Linked DNA regions of Homo sapiens. The protein of the gene in region 1 purifies or fractionates together with the protein of each later gene. This does not show direct contact. Each region holds a gene or a part of one and is shown in the gene's direction. Other genes may lie near its edges.

Region 1 (3,821 bases):
AAACTGACAATTTTTCAATTCAAATGAGTGTGTTAATGCACAGTTTCATGATAACCATCTCACTTTAGAATTCTCATTCTAAAGCAGCAGACAGATGAGGCAGGAGCCTCGACGTGGTTGCATATTCCTTTCTGAAGCCCTCTTTGTTTAGGAGCAATGCATTCTTGAATCCTCCCTTACTGGTGACTAGGAGTGTTTACACCTTAGCCTGTGCACCGTAGATTCAGGGTGTGGGAGGATTTAGCTGTTCTGTTGTATGATAGGAGAAGGAGAGGTGATAAAAAGGGGAGATGGGTAAGGAAAATCCACAACTTCTGGAAACAAGTACCCCAGGAGGGAGACCACGCTATTAACTGAGAGACTGCCAGGCCATGCTGGGCACTGGGGCACGGTGGGACATGCTCTGGTACTCAGTGGGAACCCTGCTGACAGGGTCTCCCCTCTGTTGAGCTGAGGAGGGTAGACCTATCTCTGAATGGGAGGGGTGTCGGAAGGGGATTGGGGGTGGGCTGCCTTATCATACATCTAAAAGCTCTTCTATAGGCTGTGCAGAAGCCACAAAATCAATCTGGAAGACCCCAATTTTAGGAAGTGGTTGGCCCTCTGCTATGCTTCTGAGGGGTCAGAACTCAAGCCAATGGGGAAGACTCAGGGGAGGCAGTTTTATTTAGTTTGTCCCTTGTCCTGGAGCCTCTCTTGTTGAACTTCATCTCCTGCAGGTCACCCAATAACTTGCCTTTCTTTCTTCCTCTCCCTCCTTCCTTCTCATCTGACTCTGTCTGTCTGGAAAGACTCTCCTCTGTCTGTCTCTAGCTCTTGCTCTGTAAGAAAGTGGACTTGTGAAAGCTGCAGGACTCTTGGCACACAACAACGCCATCCAGCCCCTGCTCTAATAGATGACCAAGCTCTAGCACTGCTTCTGGCAAAATAAGGCTGTGTCCGTAGGATGACCCTAGCCCCCCGATAAATGCCTGCCTAAGAAAGCTCTCTGCTGCCAGGAGAATTTACCATTTGTTCTAACGAACACCTGACAAAGACCCTGACCCTTTCTTAGACTGTTTATTACAAAGGACTTATAATTATGAATCCTTCCTCTGTCCCTTTGAAACATAGATACAGTCATCTCTTGGTATCCATGGGTGGGGAAGGGATTGATTCCAGGACCCCCTGAGGACACCAAAATCCATGGATGCTGAAGTCCCTTGTATAAAATGGTATGATATTTGCATATAACCTGTGCACATCCTCCCATGTACTTATTTTATTTTCGAGACAGCATCTCACTCTGTCACCCAGGCTGGAGTGCAGAGGTGCTTCACTGAAATGTGATCTCACCTCATTGCAGCCTCAACCTTCCTGGGCTCAGGGGATCCTCCCACCTCAGCCTCCTGAGTAGATGGGACTACAGGCACACGCCACCACACCCGGCTAATTTTTGTATTTCTTTTTTGTAGCAATGGGGTTTCACCATATTGCCCAGACTGGTCTCAATCTTCTGGGCTTAAGTGATCCACCTGCCTTGGCCTCCCAAACTGCTAGGATTACAGGCATGAGCCACTCATAATTACTCATAATACTCAATGCAATGTAAGTAGTTATACTGTATTTTAAAAATGTGTATTATTTTTTATTGTTCTTTAAAAAATTTTTTTTCCAAATGTTTTCAATCCACAATTGATTGGATCCATGGATGTGGAATCCATGGATATGGAGGGCTGACTGTATATCCCTTACAACTCTGAAGTGCCTTCCTCAAGGACCTGAGAGCCAGTCCTTTGAAATATAATCATCAGGAAGGATAGAGCCTCTGTCCCCAATATCCGTGGGAGGTTAGAATCCTAACTTTGATAATTGCCAGCTAGCAGACACAGCTGGCCTCATCGCATATTCAGGGACTAATCCTTTGTAATATTTCACCTCCCTGACTCTATGAGCCCTCGCTCACCCGTCTCCCTACTCCTCCATCTCCCTTTACAATGTCAGTCACCTCTGCACAAATTGGAATGGAGCTCAGCTCTTTCCCTGCTGTCAGTAGAGACTGAATCAAATCTGTTTTTGCTGTCTTAAGTTATGTCTGGCTTTGTTTGTCTTTGACACTTGGAAACAATTCTGAGTGTATTTGAATAAAATGGTTTTTTTTCCCCCTTTCTTTTCCCCAGTCACTCACATGCTTCAAATTCATTGATACTCCACAGAAATCTGCTATTTGGTCGCTGGTTTAAATACTTGCTTCCCTGTCTGTGAAGGGCTTAAGTGCCCCTGTTGGGAAGTCAGGCAGATCTGAGCCTTGTCACTTGTCAGCTGTGTGGCTTTGCGTGAGTTCTTTTTTTTTTTTTCTTTTTTTTTTGAGACATAGTCTCACTCTGTCACCAAGGCTGGAGTGCAGTGGCGTGATCTTGGCTCACTGCAACCTCTGCCTCCTGGGTTCAAGCAATTCTCCTGCCTCAGCCTCCCAGGTAGCTGGGATTATAGGCACCCGCCACCATGCCTGGCTAATTTTTTTTAGTGGAGACGGGGGTCTCACCATGTTGGCCAGGCTGGTCTCGAACTCCTGACCTCAAATGATCTGCCCACCTCAGCCTCCCAAAATGCTGGGATTACAGGTGTGAGCCACCGCCCCCCCGGCCTTTGCGTGAGTTCTTTACACTGTCCATCCTCAGTCTTCTCCTCTGGAAAGTAGGAATTAGAATCACTACCTCCTAGAGTTGTCAGGCAGATTAAAAAAAATACTGGGCCTGGAGAGTTCCCAGCACAGTGCTGATATCTAGAAAGCAGCCATTCTCACAGTTTTCACCCCCACCCCCCACCCCGTGTTGTTTCCCCCAGTCGCTCCAGTGCTAGTCTCTCAGAGACAGTGGCCCAGGCAGGGCAGACCCACAGGATCGCAGCAGACTGTCTCGGCTAGCTCCCAAAAGCTGTGCCGAGCACACCAACCCTCGGGGGTCGGCCTCACATCTCTGTGGTTTTTTCAGTTTCTTCTTCCTTTTGCAGAACCATTTCCTGCCAGCACATAAGTGAGACAATCTTACTCATTAAAGCACACCCTCAATGCTCCTCATGGGCCAGCATTTGTTCAGCAGATGAATTATGAGTGCCGACTCTGTGCCTGGCAGTGGGATCAGCACCTGGGACATTGAGACCAATCCAGGCGAGCTCCCTGCCCTCAAGCCTGTGTAGTGAGAGTTCCCAGGGGTGATTTCCCAACTTCATATCTGCCTCAAGGGCCCCAGTCAGCCAGCCCTGACCTAGAACATTGGGGCACTGCCCCTCTGTCCTTGCTGGGGGTTTACTATGCTTTTTGCTTTAATTATTATTGTTATTTTTTAAGACAGGGACTCACTTTGTCACCCAAGCTGGAATGCAGTGGTGCAATCTTGGCTCACTGCAACCTCCGCCTCCTGGGCTCAAGTCATCTTCCTGCCTCAGCCTCCTGAGTAGCTGGGACTACAGGTGTGCACCACCTGGACTCAGCTGTTTTTTTTTTTTTGTATTTTTTTGTAGAGATGGGGGTCTCACCATGTTGCCTAGGCTGGTCTTGAACTCCTGGGCTCAAGCAATCGGCCCATCTCAGCCTCCCAAGGTGTGAGGATTGCAGGTGTGAACCACTGAGCCCGACCTATTATGCTTTTAATACCCACAGGTGCATCTGGTTTTCCTCCTTTGACTCTGTGTATATCACGCCTATGGCTTCATTCTTCCATTCATTCTGTGCCCACCAGACATCTCCACTCCTCTTTCCTGGGTGGCCTGACCTCTTGGCATCCCCTCTCCCAGCCAATATTTGTTCCCTCTGTGATTCAAATGAAGAGGACTGGGCCAGA
Region 2 (3,821 bases), on another chromosome or scaffold:
GTTGTAAGGATCCTTTAAGTTCATCTTACGAATTTGATAATCTTTGACAAAATATTGCACCTTAGAACTGATAAAATATGTTAAGTTGTAGAGCTAGGATTAAATTTATTTCAAAGCCTTTTTCTGCTGTATGTGAGAAATGGTTACGCATGTAAACTGTTCAGAATAAAAGTATTAGGAAACCCCCTTTCCCTCCCCAGCATACATCCTAATATTAAAAAAGTTTTGGCATTAATGAGTTTAACAAAAATATCACAAAATATTTTTGAGTATGTGTTACTTGTTAGGCAAGTGTTACATACAGAGATGAACAGAAATGAGGTTGTGGCATCAGGTAACCTCTTCTCTAATGGAGCACGTACATCTGTATGAACACCTGGCAGAATTCTTTATTTTTGTCATAGAGGTACAGCTGAAGGATTCTAGGAGCATGGAGGGGGGAACAGTTATTTTAGATGGAAGAGATAGCAAACTTGAGACATTGGGGTCTGAACTTGACTTTTTAATGCAAACAGTAATATAAAATGGATGTTAATGATATTTGCTGCATTGGAACTCATGCCTAGAATTATGAGAATGGAATTTCATACCTTTTTTTTGAAGAAACAATTCTGATATAAGTGGCCAGAGTAGGGGCAGTATTTTATGTCAAGCAAATGTATCTGCCTGAGAACCCAGAAGTTGAAGATAGAACACAATTAAGAACATTTAGATGTTGTTTAAAGAAAAAACAAAGTTGTAACTCAAAACAAACAGCTCGTCAGTGATGTAATAATACAAAAATCACAGAACTGCTAAGAGAGGCAGGAGGTAGTCGTGATGGAAGAATTTATCCAAACAACAGATTTGTTGAGCTATAAATGTAACACTTTGTGAATTGCTTTAGTCATAGTTTCATTTTAGAAGGTTTAGCAGAAGCACTGTAATCGTAGTACTTTATGTTTTTAATGGTCTCTCTCTTAGCAGAATCAAGTAGTCTTAACAAGCTTGTAATTAGCACCATGTTATTGAAGTAAAAATAAACTTGAGAGAGAGCGAGTCTGTTGTAAGAATCTCACCTACCAAAAAGAGAGAACTCTGGGCTTAGTTAATTACTCTATATATCAGTTCCAAAATTTCACAGCTTAGAATAATAAGATCCCTTTGAAAGGAATAGAAGTTCTGAAAAACCTCATTGTTCAAAAATGAATCTAATGAAGAAAAGAGAGTGGTAAAACTAGAACTGTTTTTATAAGGTAGATAGTATAAAACCTATGAGAGATTTAGAATGCAGATCTCGGCTCACTGCTACCTCCGCCTCTCAGGTTCAAGCAGTTCTCTGCCTCAGCCTCCTGAGTAGCTGGGATTACAGGCATCCGCCACCGTGCCCTGCTAATTTTTCTGTATTTTCAGTAGAGACGGGTTTCACCATCTTGGCCAGGCTGGTCTTGAACTTCTCACCTCGTGATCCACCCGCCTCAGCCTCCCAAAGTACTGGGATTACTGGCGTGAGCCACTGTGCCTGGCCTGTTTTTTCTTTGTAGCATTTTTTATTAATGCCAATTATCAGTGAAAATCTAGATTCATTTAACTGACTGCCATTATGTATTTTTCATGCTATAATTTATTTATTAGTCCTCTGTAGTTTATATTTTCACAATTGAAAATTTACTTGATTTTACCATTTTAATATTTTAGTCCCTTCCTTTTATGGAGCTGTTCTCTGCTTTTATATAAAAATGAGTTTATACAAATGTTTAATTTTGGATTGATTACTTTATAAATGATTTAACATGGAATTTCTTTTATGTATGGCTCATGTTTTTAAACATGTAATTGTGATGTTTGCTGTGTTTACATTTTCATTCATAACAAAAAGTATCTCCCAATCTTTGTGTGTTTGTATATGTTCTCAATAGGCCACTCCTCAGGATAGTCAGGAAGGAACCTTTGGGTCAGAGCATTCAGCGTCACCATCACAAGGGAGTAGTCAGCAGCATTTTCTTGAACCTGAAGTCAATTTGGATGATTCCATAGATATTCAGCAACAGGTAAAAGTAAATGTTTTTCTGGGTCATAAATTTCTAAAAGTAGCTAAAGAAATCATAAAATATTTTATACTAGCAGTGCCCTGAATATATTTTTCCCACACTTAAGCTCCACTTTGTAATTGTTTCACCTATTAGGCCAAGCTTGTCCAAGGCCTAAGCATGGCCCCTAGGCCAAGCACATGGCCCAGAACTGCTTTGAATGCAGCCCAACACAAATTTGTAAACTTTCTTAAAACAATATGAGATTTGTTTTTGCGATTTTTTTTTTTTTTTAAGCTTATCAGCTGTCATTAGTGTTAGTATATTTTACGTGTGGCCAAAGACATTACTTCTTCTAATGGGGCCCAGGGAAGCCAAAAGATTGGACACCCCTGTATTAGGCATTAATGCTCCCATCGTCAATATTTTTAAAAACAGAATTGTCAATGTATAACTCTGTCTCAACCAGCCTTTCTGTTTGTTTGCTGTTCTTTTGACTTTCAAGGATATGGATATAGATGAAGGGCAAGATGGAGTGGAAGAGGAGGTCTTTGAACAAGAAGCTAAGAAAGTGGCGGTTCGCTCAAGATCAAGAACACATTCACGATCTCGTTCAAGGTTCTACAATGATATTTAATAATAGCCGTGTGTGAACTTTAAAATGTTGGCTTTATTTCTTTGCATCAGGATGAAAGGAAATGTTTCCTTGGGATGACATATTTTTTCTCAGTCTCTCGGAAAAAAAGTTATTCCAAAAACAAGATAACCTTTGTTCTGTTTTAATTGGTATATCTGTGGCTATTTATTTCAGTAATTTACATAAGATTGGCAGCCATATCATGAGACAGGGATTTTGAATTATATTTTATTTTAGTTAATATTATGATGACACCCAATTTAGAATATTGTTGCCCCTGAACAACAGTTAAGTCAGGCCATATTTCCTGGATTCCACTCATCTCACAGTGATACCAAAAATGGTTATAAAAATGAAACTACAAAATTTATTTTTATAAACATTAACTGTAATACCAAACCGTTAGGAAACAGTTTTCTTTATGAGCTTAACTTAAAGACATCAGTCTTTAACATTTTTGTATCCTATTTTTTGCGTATGAATGCCCCTGAAAATCTGAACAGTAAATGGTGTAAGAGGGGCAGTACGTTTGATGAGTTTTTCAGTCATTTCTTTTTCTTGTCACAAAGTTCTTTATATTTATCTATTGCAAATGAGAGCCTGTCAGTTCAACTTTCTCTAAACCCACCGCGTATCACTGAATTATTTTCCTGAAGCATTAACAATCTTAATGCTGAAGATATCTTCATTTGTCATTAGCAGCATCTTACTAAGCATTTTGAAGAGAGCTCAATGGCATGTGGTTGACAGGCAAAAAAGAAAGTGTTTCAGTGTCACCTTCTACAAGCACCATAAAATTTTATAAGTTGGAAACTACTAAGCAGAATTATGTAGTGGCCTAATGCTCTGACACTTAAATGGTCTTTTAATTTTCTTTGGTCTTTCATTCCTGTTCTTCTGTTTGAAAAATGAGTTGGAATGCACTAAGAGAAAGTGAGGCCCTTTCTAGAATCTTTTTCCTCTTCATTGTGAATAGTCACCCATACTCAGAATCATTGCCAACTAATATGGACCTAAGCAGCACACGGATTTAAGTAAAATGCATTTTTGAGACTTGATTTTACTTCAGAATATTTTAACATATTGTCACTAAATATAAGACAACTTTTTTGTTATTGTTTTTTCCCTCACTTAGAAGTGACAGATTTGGTAGAAAGAAAACATTGTCATTAGAA

What was found.
Region 2: the proteins of PLAAT2 (region 1) and SCAF8 purify together in Homo sapiens (affinity purification with mass spectrometry; one large-scale study listed by BioGRID and IntAct). This does not show direct contact.

The regions. Positions count from the first base shown.
Region 1 is NC_000011.10:63,553,154-63,556,974, reverse strand, and holds part of PLAAT2 (phospholipase A and acyltransferase 2), read left to right. Parts: intron 1-3,821. UniProt on the Homo sapiens protein: Exhibits both phospholipase A1/2 and acyltransferase activities. Shows phospholipase A1 (PLA1) and A2 (PLA2) activity, catalyzing the calcium-independent release of fatty acids from the sn-1 or sn-2 position of glycerophospholipids.
Region 2 is NC_000006.12:154,806,172-154,809,992, forward strand, and holds part of SCAF8 (SR-related and CTD-associated factor 8), read left to right. Parts: intron 1-1,898; coding exon 1,899-2,030; intron 2,031-2,514; coding exon 2,515-2,627; intron 2,628-3,821. UniProt on the Homo sapiens protein: Anti-terminator protein required to prevent early mRNA termination during transcription. Together with SCAF4, acts by suppressing the use of early, alternative poly(A) sites, thereby preventing the accumulation of non-functional truncated proteins.